Regions from separate parts of the Homo sapiens genome. Here region 1 is reported to be linked to region 2. The links are microRNA targets in miRTarBase. Many come from high-throughput screens and were not tested one by one. Region 2 holds a microRNA gene; the other region holds the end of a gene's coding sequence.

Evidence for each region. The annotated mature microRNA hsa-miR-6075 reads ACGGCCCAGGCGGCAUUGGUG and lies in region 2 at 1,806-1,826, opposite strand. An mRNA with a match to its seed (bases 2 to 7 or 8) in the 3' UTR can be bound and repressed. Matches are read on the target gene's strand: a 7mer-m8 pairs with bases 2 to 8, a 7mer-A1 pairs with bases 2 to 7 and ends in A, and an 8mer does both.
Region 1: miRTarBase lists CANT1 as a target of hsa-miR-6075. Seed matches in the 3' UTR shown: 7mer-m8 at 2,254-2,260.

Annotation. Positions count from the first base shown.
Region 1 is chr17:78,990,027-78,994,537 of GRCh38, reverse strand. CANT1 (calcium activated nucleotidase 1) reads left to right here. Exons shown (of 5, transcript NM_001159773.2): 5 at 618-2,822. The coding sequence ends at 988. Among named protein-coding and RNA genes, the nearest start is that of LGALS3BP, 12 kb to the right of the region's middle.
Region 2 is chr5:1,508,962-1,512,961 of GRCh38, forward strand. MIR6075 (microRNA 6075) reads right to left here and starts at 1,895; the gene lies at 1,801-1,895. All of the region lies in intron 1 of LPCAT1 (lysophosphatidylcholine acyltransferase 1), which reads right to left. RefSeq lists enhancers at 1-190, 191-708, 3,025-3,584 and a silencer at 2,813-3,107.

The DNA.
Region 1 (4,511 bases), not on the chromosome of region 2:
TCTCTTTCCTGCCCCACTCGCCCTGGCAGCTGGCCTCCTAGCATCCCAGCCTGTGGCCCGGTTGTCTGCACTGGTGGGTCAGGCCCTGTCCCTACCCCTGGCGCTGGGCCGTGGTGTTCCACACCAACATAGGGCCAGCAGCACTTTGGCCTCCCCCTAGTCAGGATGGAGTAGGCCTTAGGTGCCTGAGGTTCAGGAGGAAGTGACTGAGTCTGTGCCTGGGGCCCCAGACGCTGTCTCCTCTTCCTTGCAGCCTCAAGGCAGCCTCCCCGCCGATGCCTCCCCACATCCAATGGGGGTTTGTTCCCTTTCCTTGGGTTCCTCTGGATCAGCCCCGAGGAGGCTCCGATGAGCCCAAATCCCTGATGCAGCTCACAGGCAGCTCTCGGTGGAACGGGAGGAGGCTTCAAGGGAGCGGGTGCTGCAGGTTCCCTGCATGGGATAACCGAGAACACAGAACCTTCCAGAATCCTGGAGAGCAGGGAGGGGCGGGTTGCTGTGAGCTGGTGGGCCCTGGTGGTCGCAGCCCCTTGCCTGCTACTGCGCACGGCCTGATGGTGTGGGGCTGGGCACACCAGGCCGCATGCGTGTCTGACCCGCGGTCACCCGGTTCCCAGGCTACCTCATCCATGAGTCTGCCTGCTGGAGTGACACGCTGCAGCGCTGGTTCTTCCTGCCGCGCCGCGCCAGCCAGGAGCGCTACAGCGAGAAGGACGACGAGCGCAAGGGCGCCAACCTGCTGCTGAGCGCCTCCCCTGACTTCGGCGACATCGCTGTGAGCCACGTCGGGGCGGTGGTCCCCACTCACGGCTTCTCGTCCTTCAAGTTCATCCCCAACACCGACGACCAGATCATTGTGGCCCTCAAATCCGAGGAGGACAGCGGCAGAGTCGCCTCCTACATCATGGCCTTCACGCTGGACGGGCGCTTCCTGTTGCCGGAGACCAAGATCGGAAGCGTGAAATACGAAGGCATCGAGTTCATTTAACTCAAAACGGAAACACTGAGCAAGGCCATCAGGACTCAGCTTTTATAAAAACAAGAGGAGTGCACTTTTGTTTTGTTTTGTTCTTTTTGGAACTGTGCCTGGGTTGGAGGTCTGGACAGGGAGCCCAGTCCCGGGCCCCATAGTGGTGCGGGCACTGGACCCCCGGGCCCCACGGAGGCCGCGGTCTGAACTGCTTTCCATGCTGCCATCTGGTGGTGATTTCGGTCACTTCAGGCATTGACTCAAGGCCTGCCTAACTGGCTGGGTCGTTTCTTCCATCCGACCTCGTTTCTTTTCTTTCCTATGTTCTTTTGTTCAGTGAATATCCCTAGAGCTCCTACCATATGTCAGGCCCTATGCCTCACCCTGAGAACGCAGTGAGCATGAGGTGGACCTGTTTGCTGGGAACCCCAGGTCACCCCCTTTTCTTCCTACTCTGTGCCTGGAGCATCATGTCCACCCCTGCAGATCCTTGGAAAAGAAAATGTTTATGTTGCAGGGTATTGCATGGTCACGAGTGAGGGCAGGCCCCTGGGGACACATCTGCCCACAGCTGCACAGGCCAGGGCGCAGGCACATCTGTTGGTTCTCAGGCCTCAGATAAAACCATCTCCGCATCATATGGCCAGTGACCGCTTTCTCCCTTCAAGAAAATTCTGTGGCTGTGCAGTACTTTGAAGTTTTAATTATTAACCTGCTTTAATTAAAGCAGTTTCCTTTCTTATAAAGTGGAATCACCAAATCTTATCACACAGAGCACAGTCCTGTAGTTACCCAGCCCGCTCCAGCAGTGCGGGAGATTGTAAGGAAGCGGTGGCGGCTGGTGAAGCAAGTCTCACATGTCGGCGTTCTTGGCCAATGGATACAAAGATAAAGAAAATGTTGCCTTTTTCTAGGAACTGTCAGAAATCCTCATGCCTTTCAAGACTTCTGTGAATGACTTGAATTTTTTATTCCCTGCCTAGGGTCTGTGAACGAGGCCTGTCTCTTCCCTGGGGTTTCTTTCCATGGCCTTTATTTCTCCTCTTCCAGTGGGAGTTTTGCAGGCTCTTCTCTGTGGAAACTTCACGAGCGTTGGCTGGGCCTCGGCTTCGCTGGAGTGTACTCCAGGGTGAAGGCAGAGTGGGATTTGAGACCCAGGTTAGGCACGACCCAGGCTGAGAAGGGACGTTTCCATCATTCACAGTGCCCTCCCCACAGCACTACCTCACCCCGACCCCCACCCTCACTCCTACCCCACCCCGCGATCGTCAGGGGTGCCACGGTGGGCCGGAGGGTGCCGGCTCTGGCTGTCCCTGTGCCGGTCCCTCACAAACCTCTCCCCCTTTGAAACTCAAGCACAGCTGCGAGGAGGGCAGCGAGGAGGGACCCCTCTCTCATGGTTGTCTCTTTCCCCCGCTATGTCATAGGTAGTGGAGGAAGCGAAGGAAGTGAACGCTGAATGTGACGCATTTCTGAAGAGCTCAGCTGTCACCGGGCATAGCCTGGAAGCCCCAAGTCTGTTCTGACTTTGCCTGGCTGTCTCCTTGACCCGCCTCCTAGATCATTGTCCTTGATGTCCAGGCTGGGTCATTTAAAATAGAGATGCAATCAGGAAGGTTGGGGGACTTGGGACTGTGGCTGAATTGAGACCTTGCTGATGTATTCATGTCAGCACCTGAGTCACAGCCCAGGTGCCCGGAAGCAGCCTCTTCGCATAGGCAGTGATTTGCGATTACTTTAAAGCTCACCTTTTTTCTTCCCCTCTCTGTTCGCTGCTGTCAGCATAATGATTGTGTTCCTTCCCTATGGGATCCATCTGTTTTGTAAACAATAAAGCGTCTGAGGGAGTGTAGTTTTCTGTCTCCCGGTCTGTGCTGACTGTTTGCAGAGGCCTGGCCACGAGAGCGCCTGCGCAGGATGCTGGGCATGCGCACGGGAGTCGCCCGCCAGGGCATCCCATCTGGAAACTGCGTCCTCCAGTCCGCCTTGTCCCACTATCTCAAGGCGCTCCAAGAGCACGAGCGCTGTGGTCAGAAAGGTGGGGTCTGAAGCCACTGCAAGCCCGATCCTGGCTCTGTCCCCATCCAGCTGCATGTCCTTAGGCAAATGACCTAACTTTCCTGTGCTTCAGTGTCCTCGTCTGCAAAAGGATGCTCATCGCAGAGCTCATCCCGGGGCTGCAGTGAACGGTAAGTGACTGGGTACGCGCAAGGGGCTTAGAACATCACCTGACGTGTGCTGGGCACCCACGTGCCCGTTTTGTTGCTGCTCATCCCTGGGGAGCCATCTGGATGACTTGGTAAGGAGGCGCTCAGGTGAGAGGTCAGGGCTGAGCTGGTGTCTTTAGTGTGTCAGTGAGTCCACAGGAACAGACGAGGTCGCTCCAAGTGACGCATGGAAGAATCCCCATCACTGAAACCACAGGCGCCAGGGAGGCAGGCACTGGCCAAGAAAGACCTCAACTAGAGACAGGACAGGGGCGGCCAGAGAGGGACAGAAAACCGGGAGAGCGGAATCAGAAAGGGCAATTGCACCCACATCGACCCCTTACCCTTCAGACCCACTCTCCTTCCCCGCCTCCTCCGGGTCCCAGACCCAGTGAACCTCCTCAGTGCCCTCTGGGATGGCCCCTGGGGAGTCCCTGACTCTCTCTGGCACTCGCCTCTCAAGGCAGCCCCCTGGTGCCACTCCCAGTGTCTGGGCTGAGTCCCCTCCCCTGGTCTCTTCTGGCCTGGGAGTGTGACATGGGAGTGACAGCTCCACTGTTAGCAGCTCCAGATGCTACAGCGGCCCCTCGTGCCGCCCGCACGCCCTGCTGTCTCATCCGTGGTAAATGGTCCCTTCACTGAAGCCTCCTTAGATGATCTTCATTCGGGTGTCGTCTTTTCCTGCTGGGAGCCTGACCAAGACAGCGCTGCAGGGAGGCGGCCTCTGCAGAAGGACCAGCGCGGCAGCGGGGTCCCCAGAGAGACTCCATGACTGAGCAGCAAGGAGAACTGGGCGTTCTCGGCGAGGATCCACAGAACAACAGTTCCAGAAAAAGCCAGGGCGCATCGGGCCGCGGCGGGTTGGGATAAGGAACCGCATGTAAGCTCTTGACCATCTGTTTAAGAAGCTGTGACATGCGGGACTCGTGGGGCAGTGACTGCCGGCTCCACACTCATGGGTCCGGCACACAGCTCATCTGCAAATGGAAGACTCTCCAGTCACCTCAACTGGACAAAAAAACGAGATTCAGTTTCTTTCATTCCACGTGTTAATCCTGTATTCCAGTATACTTTTTTTCTTTTCTTTTTTTTATTTTGGGGGGATGGAGTCTTGCTCTGTCTCCCAGGCTGAAGTGCAGGGACACGATCTTGGCTCACTGTAACCTCCATCTCCCAGGTTCAAGCAATTCTTCTGCCTCAGCCTCCCAAGTAGCTGGGATTACAGGCGTGCGCCACCACGCCCGGCTAATTTTTGTGTTTTTAGTAGAGATGGGGTTTCTCCATATTGGCCAGGCTGGTCTCAAACTCCTGATCTCAAGTGATCCATCCGCCTT
Region 2 (4,000 bases):
GGTCCCTCTCGTGTGCACTCACGCCATCGCGGTGCCCGACAGGGGTGCTGCGGTGAGGCCCACCAGGCGCAGGGATGCTGCGGCCCCTCCGAGCCCACTTGTTGGAGATGTCACACTGCAGTGCCCCAGCCAGTGAAGGGGCTCCAATGCACCTGCAACGAGGCAGGGGTGGAGGGGAGGCTGCCCAAAGGATGGCGCCCGGAGACTCGAAGGCCGCGAGGCCGCGTCATCCCGCACAGGCGGCCGGGGCAGATGCTCAGTGCCAGCCACCCCAAGCTCTACGGTTAGCGCGGTGGAGGCAGCTCACAGGAATGCTCCCTCCTGAAGGTGCATCCCAACATTGCTGCTTTAATTATGTGGAAAAAATTATCCCAACTCCACAGGATATGCGACAGTGCGCTTGCAAATCCACGAGAGAACGTGCACTCCTCCCACGGTGAGAGGGCGAGCGGCAGCACACACAGGCGCCTGCTGTCCAAGGTCTAATTTTCTTTTGCTTTTTCCTTTTAGAGAAAGAACAACTTTTGAAAGCACAGCAGTTCTCTCAGGCATCCCATCGGACGGAGCCGGCACTTCCATCAGCAAACACCACCAGCCCGCCCTCGGCATCTGAGAGCTGGAGGGAGCTTCGGGAATCACCCACTCCCGTCCAGCACCCACAGACACAAACCGAGCAAGGCAGCAGCAGGAAACGCCCTCCTTTTCTGTCTCCCCAATCACCAAAACACCTTTATTCATATAACATGACTTCTGGTCCAAACCAAACGCTGCCTTCAAATATGGAATCAGCGATCACGCCCACAATGAATTCTCATAGTTAACGATACTAAAAGCAGACAGGAAATGTGAAAAAGTGGCACCGTGAACCATTGCCGTGGGCTCTCTCTGCACACACAACCACTCTTACCTTTGGAGCCCGAGGCACGGCCCGCACCCCAGGCGCTACAGATCCCAGGTGAGGCCTGCAGGAGGAGGGATGGGCTGCCAGGAGCGCAGGCCACATCACGGGGACGGTTTCATTGGGAGGAACATTTTATGTTTACTGGGTATTCCCATTTCTGTTTGTGTAATTTTCTCATTTATATAAATGTATATACATCTTGTGCCAAATTTATGGTGGGTTTCTTTGTCTTTTTCTCACCCCTGTGAACATCCATTGTCTCCCTGACCTTAGATTTCAGTGAGGTCACACTCTGGAGCTTTTCACCCCCACCCCGTGTGACTGCAGGAGGATCTGCGCCTCCCCGCAGGAACCCCTCTCCCCCACAGCCCGTGCTTACTGCTATCTATAAAGCTGTTTCTTCTTCGCTCTCCCACTCAAATCTAAAATTAAATATAGCTTTTCTAAAACTGAACTATTTCTTTGCAAACCCTCAACCAGCCGTACCGCCTCCCGCCGCTGTCATCTCTACTCCACCGTCCTCACCAGAACCCTCGGCACCATCACCTACCCGAGGCTCTTGCCTGCGAGATGACAGTGTGTTCAGTAATTCCCTTTGGATTTGCAAATCGGCCCCGCAGTCCCACAGCACAGTGATTCTCCTAGACCACTCCATTTACCATTTTCAACCCACTCCAGTCCACGGGCGTCTTACGAGGATGCTGCACGGTGTTGAATGGGATCAAAGCCAGTCTGGTCTTGGCCATGTCTAAACCACGACACCCTGTGACTGGGGAACCCCCATCAACACCCAACCAGCTCCCCTGTGAGCCAGCTTCCAGGATACAGGGACGGCCCTGGGACCGTTGGCACCAGTGTCGTCACTGGGACTGGATGGTAGCATGCAGGTAGCACCCTGGGGTGACACCAATGCCGCCTGGGCCGTGGTGCTGCATCTGTGGGACACTGGAACATGACCTGGAGGGCAGGCAGGCCTGGAGGAGCATGTGGTGTCTCTGGAGCAAGGGCCGCTGCTGGAGGGCAGGCGGGCCTGGAGGAGTGCAGTGTCTCTGGAGCAGGGGCCGCTCTCCGCAGCGTGGGTGGAGGCTGTCTCCCATGGCTTCTGCAGGCCCTGGTTAGTCCTGCTTTCTGGAAACAGCCATGGGGGAGCACACCTTCCTCCTGCGGGGCGTCCCCACCAGCGTCTGAGGGGCACTGGCTCTGAGAAAACCCTGGGCCCCTAAGACGGCACTGAAGCCCCATATCCCAGCAAGAAGAGACCAGGGAGTCACTGCGGTTACTTGCTCATGCCCACGCAGGCCTTTCTGTGGATCTCCACACACAGCACCTCCGACTGCGACCGCACAGCTCCTCTCTTGCACCTGGGCTCACGGTTGGCTCTGCGGGGTTGACCTCCCCGGCGCGCGCTGTTTGTGTGTCCCAGTTACCTAGGTTCTGTAGCAGACGTGGCATCAGAGACCACGTGGCCCCAACCCCTCAGGGGACACCACCTGCACGCCTCGCTCACCCTACGTGGGGACATCACCTGCTCACCTCGCTCACCCTACATGGGGATGCACCTGCTCACCTCGCTCACCCTACGTGGGGACGTCACCTGCTCACCTCGCTCACCCTACTTGGGGATGCACCTGCTCACCTCGCTCACCCTACGTGGGGACGTCACCTGCTCACCTCGCTCACCCTACTTGGGGATGCACCTGCTCACCTCGCTCACCCTACGTGGGGATGTCATCTGCTCACCTTGCTCACCTTACGTGGGGATGCACCTGTACGCCTCACTCACTCTGCCATCAGGACACTGCTTGAATTCCTCTCTTGAACACAGAGCTGCTTCCTGCAGACAGGGTCAGAGAACAGCCAGGGAATCCCTGAGTGGGATCAGGCCACTCCAGTCTTGGTTGGCCAGGAACCGAGCCCCTCCAGGAGGGAGGTCCATCGAGCAGCCTCATGCATCTGCACAGCAAAGCTGTGCATCGTCCTCTGCTCCCAGATGGTGGCACCCTCCTGCTTGCCACTCAGCCAACAACCCCAAGGAGGCAGCCTCATGGCTGGGGATGGCTGTGTTGAGCTGCAGCCCCAGCTGTCCCTAAGCTCTGTGGCTTGGGAGGAGCATCACTTCCCGGTCTCAGCGGGTGTCTGGAGGGTGGGCTGGGTCCTGCTGAGGCCAGGCAAGGAGGCTCCACCTGGGCAGCCCCACATCACCACCAGGACACAGCAGGTGGCAGAGGGCGTACCACACTTAGAGCCCTGCTCATTCGCCAGTAAAGTGAGCCCCACGGCCACCCGGACAGGGCTTGGCAGGCACAGTAGTCTGAGCTCCTGTGTGGCGTGCGGCCCCGTGAGTCGCAGTGGGGCTATGTGCTGGGTGGTGCCACACAGGCAGGCCCTCCATGCCCCATGTCCAATCAGGAAGATATGGAGCCGCTGGGCCGGCCACACCCGCCTTCGGAGTCACTGTCAGCTCTGCATCATCATCCCACGGAGGCTCACAGGGTCACAAGGCCCCGGCCCAAGAGCAGTCCCACACTAGAGCCTCCCTCTCACTATCCCTGAAGCACCCAGTGTCCATGCTTCCCGTAGAATCAAGGGCCATAGACCCCCAACATCTGGGGCAAGCACCCTGCAGTCACTGGAGAAGACACAGCTTGCTGAAGTGCCCACGGGGGGCCACATCTCAGACTTTCAACCTTGTGTACTACAAATGCAGATTCCTGGACACCTTGTGACCTTTGGAATGAGGCTGTGCCCTGTGGGCTGACTCCCTCGGGCCCCCTGAGCTATGTATGGCCCACGCCTTCACCTGGAGTCTTCCTCCCATCGGGGGGCTCTGCTGTCTGGACTAAGCGTTCCCTGACACCCTGGCTCACACCCGTGATGCCAGCACAGGGCATGGTGCTCACACATTGGTGCTGTTGGAAAGTAACCAGTAAAAAGGTGTGTGAAAGAAAACACGCTTACTCATTCTGCAGACAATTCCTGAGCACCTGCAATGTGCACTCTGGACAAATGGTGTCCAGGTGCAGGCAGAACGAGACCGACGGAAACCGCAGCACCACCTGGCTCAGACGGCACAGGTGCAGCCCGTGTAAAGATGGCACG